Regions from separate parts of the Homo sapiens genome. Here region 1 is linked to region 2. Evidence: fine-mapped expression QTL. Tissue or cell type: adrenal gland. Region 2 holds a variant in brackets; the other region holds the start of a gene. All regions are shown on one strand. Distances are from middle to middle.

What was found. PIP is the estimated chance that this variant, and not a neighbour inherited with it, causes the effect.
Region 1: it holds the start of GLIS3, and the variant in region 2 is fine-mapped to the expression of GLIS3 in adrenal gland (GTEx, PIP above 0.99).

The regions. Positions count from the first base shown.
Region 1 is chr9:4,297,869-4,303,249 of GRCh38, reverse strand. It overlaps GLIS3 (GLIS family zinc finger 3), which reads left to right and starts at 3,182. Exons shown (of 11, transcript NM_001042413.2): 1 at 3,182-3,829. GLIS3-AS2 (GLIS3 antisense RNA 2) reads right to left here and starts at 3,949. Exons shown (of 4, transcript NR_186824.1): 1 at 3,827-3,949.
Region 2 is chr9:4,332,547-4,337,927 of GRCh38, reverse strand. It overlaps a transcript of GLIS3 not described here. Among named protein-coding and RNA genes, the nearest start is that of GLIS3, 35 kb to the right of the region's middle. The variant C/G (reference allele first, on the strand shown) is at 3,137.

The DNA.
Region 1 (5,381 bases), 35 kb after region 2:
CATACTATCACTGGTGCTATTAGCTCAACTTATCTGTATTTTGGGGTTCAAATTTGTTTCTTTTCACGGACACTTTGTGGGAGGAGGAATCTGATCATAGTTCTTTGCAAGTTTGTAAGTGGTTTACTGTCAGAGCACTCAGGGTGACTCAAATAGCAGTTCTGAAGTTTTGCTGTCAGGATGTTCCTTCGGGAGAGTTTCATTGCTGTGAGACAGTGGATGTTCCTATTTTGTACTCTAGCTTTGAGTGAGCTGCTTGCTATGCAGGACTTATGCCTTCTGTGCCCCTTTTGATGCTGATTCCTATACTTGAAATGGTCTCCTTTGCTTATCACTTCTCTACTCATTCTTTGAAGTCCAGCTCAAACAGCCAAGCTACTCCATGTCACATTGCAGGAAATTATTCCTGCCTCCTCCACACTCCCTACAAACTTCATTGTGCTCATCTAACACTGACCACAAGATGCTTTGCACTTTATACACCTGCAATATGTTTTATACACATTCAAAGAGCATGCACAATTATTCTGTAGTACAGTAATGTTGATTGAACTTGGGGCTTCTAAACTGGCATACTTGGCTCTGTCTCTGACTCTCTTTAACTGTTTACTGAGCTTCAACTTCTTTGCTTCTAAGTAGGAGATTATTCATAGCCACATCATACATTTGATTTGAGAATTAGATGAGGTAATATATGCAAAGAGTCCCCATTTCTTGAGGGTTTGCTACAACTAAGACACTGGGCAAAAAGTTTTCTGTAATATCCTCCCATATACAATGCCTACAAGTGTTAATTCCTTTAGTCCCAATACTTGGACAGAGTGTGTACTCACTGAATATTTCTCTGATGAATGAGAACTGGACTGGAGCTGGCAGCAGGGGCCTGTCTGCTGAGTCAGCTGCCCTGAGTCAGCGGTTGAGGCACATACAACACTGGTCTCTAGAGAGGGAAGATACTGACTGGGCTGCAGTTCCCACCTATCTGGCTGAAGGGCTGCCAGAGTATGATTCCTAAGCACGATGGAGAGCTCATGGGTAAGGGAGAGTATCATTTTGGAACTACATGATTTCCTTTCTCACTGTCTCTCATTACCACCCTCCCTCACCCCTGCTGACCAATTCAGCCCAGAAGAGGTACAGATCTCATTCTGAGTCATTCCAGGGTTGTACTGGTACAAGAACAACTGCATTTTTACTATAACCCATGGAATATAAGAACATTGCAGATCTACATTCTTGGCCAGAAAAAAAAAAAAAGAAAAAAATTCAACCAAAGCACTATACCTCTTCAGTGGTAAATATTTTAGGAATGTTAGAGGTTCATGAAAATCACACCTAAATAAAATGACATTCCCACTCTTGGGCTCTTATAAATGAAGAGATTTTGGGGATCTCCAGGTTGATGACTCCTAACTTTCCCAGTGTTTTTTTCCATGAGCTATTGATTAAAGTTGGGTGTAGCACTATATTTTTTTCTCTTCCAGCTAAGCTGTTCCCATCATTTGGGAAGTTTTAGAAGCTTCTGCAAGCCCCTAGGATACCATTCTATGCATCAAAACCATTGTATTTAAAATGATATTTGAGGGACATTGGAAAGGTTTTTTGCAGTCTCCACCCAGGCTTGTCTTGCTCCTGGGAAGCAGTTGTACAGCACAAGAATCTGATGAACAGAAGTTCCCATGATGCATTGAAGGGTTAGTGTTGCCATCTTGCTCTGTTCCTTAAGGCTGGAGTTAATGAGGAAGAGTTTTTATGTGAATGTCAGGCATGTTGCAATAACTAGCCACAATGGAATAGTCATGGCAATTTCCACCACTTGGTTTCTTTGTTTTTGTGATGTTGCTGCATGCTTCATTTTATGAGTATTTTCTTTTCTTACGTGTGGTTGAGCCCATCTATTGCCATCTTGGGCTTGAATACTTGTATTTAAAAGAGATGAACAGAGAGAAACTGGAAAACTGACAGAATGACATATCCTGACCTCTTACTATTTTTCATCCCCTACTTCTGCTGACAAATATTCTGATGAGTTTGTGTCCCAAGGTGAAGGAAAAGAAAAGAAAAAGTACTGTGGAAACCAGGCTTCTTTTGGTTATGTTAATATCATGGATACAGACCAAGCCTAGTAGTATTCCCACTGAAATTAGATAAATGAAAACTGCCAATAGTCTTTTAGTTTTGGCTTTCTGGGGTAAGTCATTTGTGTCCTTGAGGACTTCTGTCTTGATCAAAGCATCTACTACCTGATTGCTAATTTATATTGGAGTGGTAACAGTAGAATAGAATATAAGGACTTGTGAAATTCTAAGTGTCTGGTGGCATCCTCACTCATTTCATTCATGATGGTGAATAATACTGTCAACTGCAGAAAGGCCTACCTGGAGGATATTGTGTGCATTACATACCTAGATTCCCAAGATGGAAGTCCTTGCATCTGTGGCAATACATGTGATGAACTACTAGGAGCAGACTTTCTTGTAACAACCTTTTGAGGGCTCTGGTCAACACAAGCAGAAGCGGTGGCGAGTCAGAGCTTAGGTGGGGTATGAGGCTGAGGATGTTGAATTCATAAGGATAAAGTGCCACTTTATAGACGTAACATACGCAGGGAATATACCTCCATTCTTAACAGCCTGTGTTCAGAATTTTATACCCTTCTAACACTTCCATCACCTTCCTCTCTTCCCTGCCTATACTTGGAAAGGATGCCAAAGCCTTCCTTAGTGCTTCACCTATCCAGTTTCGAAGCTGTCATGTGCATCCGATCCGATATTTCAAAGCAACCCTTTTGCCATTTTTCACTGTGTTATTCTCTCCGTATTACTACCGGATTTTTTTGGTTGTTTGTTTATTTTTTTATGACCTGACATCAAATCCTGTCTAAACACTAACACTTTTTCATGTTAAAATAAGTCAGTTTAACAAATAAGGCCAGGAAGAAGGCGAAGTGTCTCCCTGCTGTTACCCTGTTCTGGAGTTCCTCGACTTCTGGCGCACGGGGAGTGTGTGTGTGTGTGTGTGTGTGTGTGTGTGTGTGTGTGAATGCGTCAAGAGGGAGACACAAGCTCGGCCTTCGAATTGGCCAGCCTAGTGACCCGCGAGCCCGCCCCCACTCTTCCCCCTCCCCCTCCGGCGCTCACACTCAGGAAGCAGCTGGCTACAGGCCGGCCCTCGCGGCCGCACACACATCCACACTCCTCGCCCGGCTGCCTTCCTCCCTCCCTCTTCCCCCTTCCCCTCTCCCTGCAGCCGCGTCCACACTGCGCCGCCCGGGCAGCCCAGAGCGCGGCGCGCACGGGCACCGGCGGCGAGTGCCGCGGCCACTGCCCCTCCCGGGACCCCCTGTACGCCGTCCGCGCCGTCCAGGGTCACACCGGCGACGGAACCCGCCGGCAGCAATTAGCCAGCATCCCGGGGTCGGCCCCCAGAAGCATTCCCCGGCCCAGGACGAGGATGAACAGGACAGGCGAGGCACAAAGTCGCAACTGAACTTTTTAGAAACATTATTTGTGTGTGTATGTGTGTAGCAGGGGAGAATGAGCTGATGCCGAGGGTCCAGCCACCCCGCCTCTGCCTCCTCCTCCCCCTGCCGCCGCTGCCCTCGCAGACGCGCGCGCACACACGGCACTTGGGCCGGGTTTCCGCGCTCCGTCCCCCCGTTTGGATGGGGGTTTTCATTTCCGAAGGAGGCACAGCCCGCGGAGCGCTCTGAAGGGCTGGAGCCCCAAGTTACTCCTCGCCAGCGCCGGCCGCCCGCTGTCACTCGCGCTGGCCGGCCGGGGGAAGGGACCCGCACGCCGGGCTTTGTTGTGGAAATCCCGGTTACCTGGTAAGTGGATGCCATAGGAACTTTGCTCGCAGGCGAGAGACGAGGAGAAACCGGGCGCTTGAGAGTGTGGGGGAGTTAAAGCTCAGAGACGCAAACTAGGGATTACAAATAGTTTTCTACGCTGAGCCGGTGGCGTTCGCGCGGGTTTAAGGATACGCGCACCTCAACTCCCGGCGTCACAGGTCACTGAGAGACCTGCGCTGACTGAGACTGATAGCAACAATTAGGGTTCAAACCATGTTTCTGTCAGTGGCCTAAGAGCGCCCAGTGTAGAAGACAGATAACGGGGCTTTAAAGTTGCGCTAATTCGGAACAGTTTTTGTGTTTTCATTTCAAGTAGAGCGGGCAGAGGGGTACACAATCAGGGCACGTTACAGGACGCACGGGCATGGGGCGCACCACTCTGGAGTCCCCACTGAAGGGAAACTTTGGCGAAGTGGGAACTGATGGGGTGACGTGAGGTCTCTCGCGCACACGCGGGGCTGTAGTTGTCTTTTCAAGTTCCACGTGTTTGTGGAGTTTCACGAAGGCTGTTTTCCACGCCTGTGTCTCATCCAAGCCGGTGTCCCCATGATTGCGGGAGGTGGTCGGGCTGAGGGTACCTACACTCCTCGCGGGTACCGGCCCGGCGATCCGCAGCCGCCAGGTCTGGAACTATAACCTCCCACGCCGCCAGGACGCAGACACAGCCAGACACGAACCCTCCCCGCCGGGTTCGTCACCTCGCGTTTACATTTTTTATGGGGCCCGACAAAATGTCAGCACTGTTTGGAAAATGTCTCAGTCTCGGAGACGTTGTCCTGCGCGCGGCTCCAGTCCCTATAAATGACCCTGTGTGTATTTTGAAGTCGGCCCGGGTCGCTCTCTGGAAAGCGTGAGTGAGCCGCCGGCTCTCTCCTAGACACACACCTTGCCCCGAGCGACAGTTCCAAGTTACTCACTGGAGCTGACAAGTCACCTCGGGGACCGGGAAGTCACTCAAGTGTCTGGAAATCTTGGCCCTGGCTGATTTGTCATCCTATGGATGATTCAATTAGGTACCTGGCGGGAGAAACTTTGGGGAAGGGTTTCTGGCTCCGCGTTCGCGCCCTCCGACTTGCTGGAGGTGTTTGGGAGGCGAGAAGCGAAAGGAAACCACAGGGTGAGGACACTGGCTCGGCGGGGACCGGGGGGCCGGCGTGGGGGGACTGCGAGCCCGGCCGTGGCGCCCCCGGGCTACAGGCTCCGGCCAGGCCGGGCAGCGCGCGCAGGTCCCCGGCGCCCGGGCTTCCCAGCCGCAGCACCCTTTCGGCCCCCGACTCACTCAGGAGCGAGTTGCACAACAGGAAGCCGGCACTAGTTTGTTTTGTTGCGCTGCGTTCGCTCCCTCGCTCGCTCGCGCACGGGGCCGAGGGTTAGGGGCGGAGGCGGCGGGGGAGTGACGGGGTCGCAGCCGCGCGTACCCCGCCGGGCGCTGTCGCCTCCGCCTCCGGACCCGCCCCTAGCTCCGCGCCGAGGAATCTCCGACCCCGGCAGCGAAGCCAGTCCTATAGGGAACCGATAAGGGCCGCCC
Region 2 (5,381 bases):
TGGTTTGGGGCAAATATTTTCATCTCTTTGAACCCCAGTTTCTTCATCTTTCAAATGGGGGTAATAGTTGCCTCATAGAGTTTTGTGAGGATTAAATGATACAACATATCTGAAAGATGGATAGTGGAGCCTGGTACTGAGTAAACAAAACTGGTTGCTACCACCTCTACTATTATGCTACTATTGTGATCATTATTATGAACATTAATCAGCTTTTGTCTGGCCTTGTGATATGGTAGAATGAGTCAGATATTGGCCCAAAGGGATCCTCCATGTTCTTTTACTTCAGTGATGCTTGAGGCCCTTGTCCAACTCAGCATGTCAGAAAAAATGACCGGAAGGAGCCTGAAGCTTTTTGTTTGTTAGATATATTTTTTTGATTATAAAGGAAATATACATCATTGTAGAGTACATAGAAATGTTCAGAATCATTGCAAAATATTGCCTTCATTCGTTTAAATCAAAAGTATGAAAATACTGTCCGTACGATTTTGTATCTTTATTTTCAAATGAACATTTCCTATGTCATTAATTTTTTGACCATATCACTTTAATAGCTGCATACTATCTAATCATATGGCTGTATTTAATTAACTATTTTCTGATTGTTAGACATTTATGTTATTTCCAGCTTTGTTACAATAATTAACACTTTGGTGAAGGTCTTTGTAGATAAAGTATTTTTCTGAGCTTCTGATTATTTCCTCAGGACTGTGTCCCAGAATGAGAGTTTTGGGGTTAAATGATTTGCACTTTTAATGATTCTATGTGTTGCCAAATTACTTTCGGGAAAAGTTGTACCAATTTGTTTGTGCACTAGAAGCCAATGACACTACCAACTCTGAGTATTTTCTTTTCCTAATTTGATAGGTTAAAAGTAGTATCTCATTTTAGTGCATTTAAAAACATTTACTAGTAATATTAGATTTTTAAATATTTATTAGTCATTTATATTCTGTCCTCTGGAAATTGTCCATTTACTTGATCTATTTTTCTCTTGGAATTTAGTGAGTTAGTGTCTTCCTTATCAGAATATATGAGTATTCATGTAGAATTGACAGATAACTTTGTAGACCTCTTTTCATAGATCTTTTTAGCAGATCTGTAGTGTAATTAGTATGAACATCTCTCTACTATCATAAAAACTTGCCAACTAAAGGAATATACAAATTGTATAGGACTTGGGACATGAGCTCTGGAGCAGTGAACATCGCACGTTTCCCATAAGTGATAGTTTTGAGGAATGGCAAGGTTTGGAGTTAGGTGGATCTGGGTCTAAACCCTAGTTCTGTCGCTTACTGGTTTTGCAGTCTTGGTTTTGTTGTTTTATCTTCCTGAGTCTTACTTTCCTTTTCCATAAAACGGAAACTATATATTCAGTTTCAGGGCTCATGTGAGGATGCCAAGAGAAAGGGTGATATCAACACCCCGACACATGTATCAGTGCCCTCAGGGTCTGGCACCAGAAACTGTAGCAATGATCCTAAGGGATCCAGGTCCCTGACCCAGAACTGCCACCCAGAGTATTGGTGACCTGGCCTGGCCTGGTGGCTTTGGCCCTGTGGAGCAACTTTAATGCTAGTTACAGCAGCACCAGGGGCTTAGTGGATAGATAGCTTAGCCATAGAGATCTCTGAAAGTATTCAGAGCTAAAGAAGAGGAAACCCATATATCACATGTGGCCATGGAGAGGACTGATTTTGAATCCACATGAGATGCTTTTTGGAGACTCCCAAGATTAGGTCAGGGAGAAGAGTTGGCAGTGGGCTAGAGCCAGAGAACTATTGCTTTCTACTGCTATTGTGACCCTACTTTAATATCATGCCATGTGGCTTATGGGTAACAAACAGATTGGGAAATGGAGGCCCACAGAGGTGTAATGACTTACTCAAGATCTCACAGCACATCATCTCCAAACTCAGGTTTTCTAACTGCTTGCTCCCTGCCCTTTCTTCTTCATCACCTGTCACCAAGTAAATTTACCGAAGTCCGCAAATTTTTACCTTAGGTTGTCATAGCTCTGTATTAACTAACTGAATTTCTTGGAACTGGATACAAACACCAAGGCTGGAATGAGGGAAGAATCACCTTATCCTGTTAAATCTGGTTCAATGGGGGAAGGACCCTGGGGCAATTCAGAGTAGGGCAAGGGACCCAGGGGATGCCAAGTGTGTTCTGAGGCTTCTTGAAAGGGATGGATGCCTCTAAGAGAGGTCTAAATAGATCCTGATGTTTCAGGTTTAAACTAAAACCCTAAGCCGTGTTGAAAGTGCCCTTGTTTAACCCCGGGCTACTTAGGGTACTACAGGTGAGATGCCAGGTGTAAGCTAGGTTAACGCCATCCCCAGGGCTGGTGAGGGAGATAGACACCAGAACCACTGAATTCTGCCTGTTTTTCACACTTGAAGGCTTTGCACAGGAAAGCACGTGGAGCAGAAGTGATAATTCAGATGATTAGAGCAGAAGCCCTTTATGGAGTAGCATTACCAGATCTTTTTATTTGCTATATCTGGCAAGTTTACGAGCAACTGAGGATTTACTTTAACTGAACCATTTGGTTTAGCTGTCTACAATTAATTGATCAATTTCACAGGTTAATTGGCTTAGGGCTTCATTTCACTTTGTGGTATAGACTTTGATCGTCACTGGAGTTATTTCTTATGCTTCTAATTTGTTTCAATTATGGCACTAAGATGCTCAGTAAAAATGAGTGGAAATGGGGCCAGGTACGGTGGCTCATGCCTGTAATCCCAGCACTTTGGGATGCCAAGGCGGGTGGATCACGAGGTCAGGAGATCAAGACCATCCTGGCTAACATGGTGAAACCTCGTCTCCACTAAAAACACAAAAAATTAGCCAGGTATAGTGGCGGGCGCCTGTAGTCCCAGCTACTCGGGAGGCTGAGGCAGGAGAATGGCATGAACCCGGGAGGTGGAGCTTGCGGTGAGCCGAGATCACACCACTGCACTCCAGCCTGGGTGACAGAGCAAGACTCCGTTTCAAAAAAAAAAAAAAAAAAAAAAGGTGGAAATGATTTCTCTTCTGAGAGCTGCTCTTATTGTAGTTGTGGGTTGAAGAGAGCAGGCATGACTGCCCATGGCTGGGCATGCTTTTAAAGGTCAGAGTACAAAATGGC[C/G]TTGGACAAGCCCCAGGTTCGCTGTAAGTGGCCTTCTGTAGCACCTTTGTGTGTGAGAATGAATGCTGTGACTCATAAGGGCAGTAGTGTGGATTGAGGGAGTATAAGGAGAAGACAGGCAAAGCAGCATGGGGACAGTGGCTGAACAGGCCCAGTGCTCACTAGGCCAGGTTGGGCTGTTTGGCGTTCACCTAGGTAACCTGTTGCCAGGAGGACAACAATAACTTCCCCATGACAACGCTGGAGCAAGAGCCCTGGCACTGCAAACAGAGCCAGAAAAGTCTGCCCTAGCTTGGACTTGCTGATTAATGAACATGCATTTGCACTACAATTGTTTCAGGAAGGGTGGAGGGGACAGAGGGCACTGACCAGCTTCCTTGCCTCTCCAGCCACCAGCTCCTTGACAGCCAACCTTTTCTGTCTACCCACATACTCTGTAGCTGCCACGTTTTAATTGTTGCTTGTTTTGAGAGGTTCTGTGATCTCTCTGTAATTTGTAGAAGGACTGAATGTTATATCCAGAAAGCTCCTTGGGAAACAGATTTAGAACCTGCCTGGAATTTACACTATCAGATGGTCTTTCACTGTCCCCTTTACTCAGTTTCTTTACCTGTAGTAGAATCAATTCCTATTACCTAAATTTGGGTGAATTTTTATGAGATCTCACTGCTCAGTCAGAACTTGCTGTAACTGTTTGTCTTGATACTCAAATTCAAGCCCTCTGAATTATGAGACTAGAGTATTGTCTGCCTCATGAAGAGGTCACTTTTGTTTCTAAGCACTTAAGCTCCTAACAGGAACCCTAGTCCTTTCCTCTCCTGCAGAGGTCATCAGAGCAGACAAGGTGGCACCATTCCAGGTAGGATTTAAGGAATCCAAGAAATTCCCAATGCAAAGTGGTTTTCCCTGGCGTTGCCTGAAATCGCACCTTTTTGTAAAGTGTTGTTTGGAGCTTTATGATAATATAATTTCTCTTGGGAGGATATTTCCAATCAGGTGTAACAGCTGGAAGTGAGGGGAATCAAAACAGATGAAGTTGCGGGGGGTGGGGGGGGGCATCACATTGCTTCACAATTACGTCTAGAGCCACCCTTCACAAAAATCCCATTGGAAGCTAATAGCATTATTTGACAAAAGGGTCTCATAGCCAAGTATGTTAGGGAAACATTGGGTTAAAACAAATTGAATAGGTCACTTTTCTGAACTATTGTTTCATGTATCAAATTTGGGAAACTAGCCCAGAGCAATGTTGAAAGGTCATTGAGCAAGATCTTGTTCTGTCACTCTTAACCACTCAGAAGACTAGAAATCTCTCCTTCTGTTTTAAGATTAGATTATTTGCTTGTTCTTAAGCAAATTAAAGTCAATTTTTAAAAAAGACTTAGTTTCTTTCTTTCTTTCCCTCTCTCCCTTCCTTTCTTCCCTTTTTCCTTCCTTCCTTCCCTTTTTTCTTTCCTTTCCTTCCCTTCCCCTTGCTTTCCTCTTCCTTTTTCCCTTCCCCTGCCCCTACCATTCCCCTTCCCCTTCCCATTTTTCTTTCCTTTCCTTCCCCTCCACTTTTCCTTCCCTTCCCTTTTCATTCTTGTCTCACTGTGTTGCCCAGGCTGGACTCAAACTCCTGGTCTCAAGCAATCCTCCTGCTTCAGCCTTCTGAGTAGCTAGGACTATAAGAGTGCAGCACCTGGCTAAGGTTTAGCTTCTTAATTTGTGAAACTGGAGTGATAATACCTGTCTCATAAGGTTGTTCTGAAGATTGAAGGAGATGACTTAGATAAAGCAGCTGTCAGAGTAAGCACTCAATGCTATAAAAATTAGGGAGCTGAAAACGTTAACATTGAATCAAGATTAATGTCAGTCCTGTTAGTCACAATAATAAAGACTGTAAACAAAGAACAATAATACCACCCATCCCAGAAATATTGATACTATCATGTATAAGGTTCAGAATATGTAGTATCTAGTACCCAGTAGACGTTTTGACATATTTACTGAATAGATGTGTAGAGGAACACCTATGTACATTTGTATCAAATTTAATCTGTATCAATAGAGAGCACATGAGGCTGACTCCCGCCTATTAGCTACAATAGCTCAAAGATTAGAGAACTTTCTATGTCATCTAATAGTCCAGAGGTAGGTTGGTAGTTTAGAGTGAGTATACTGTTGTCTGCCCTAAGAAGGCATCCAGAGCCCCAGGTGGGCTGGTCTGCTCTGCTGTCTTCAATGTGGAGCTTCCATCTGGGTG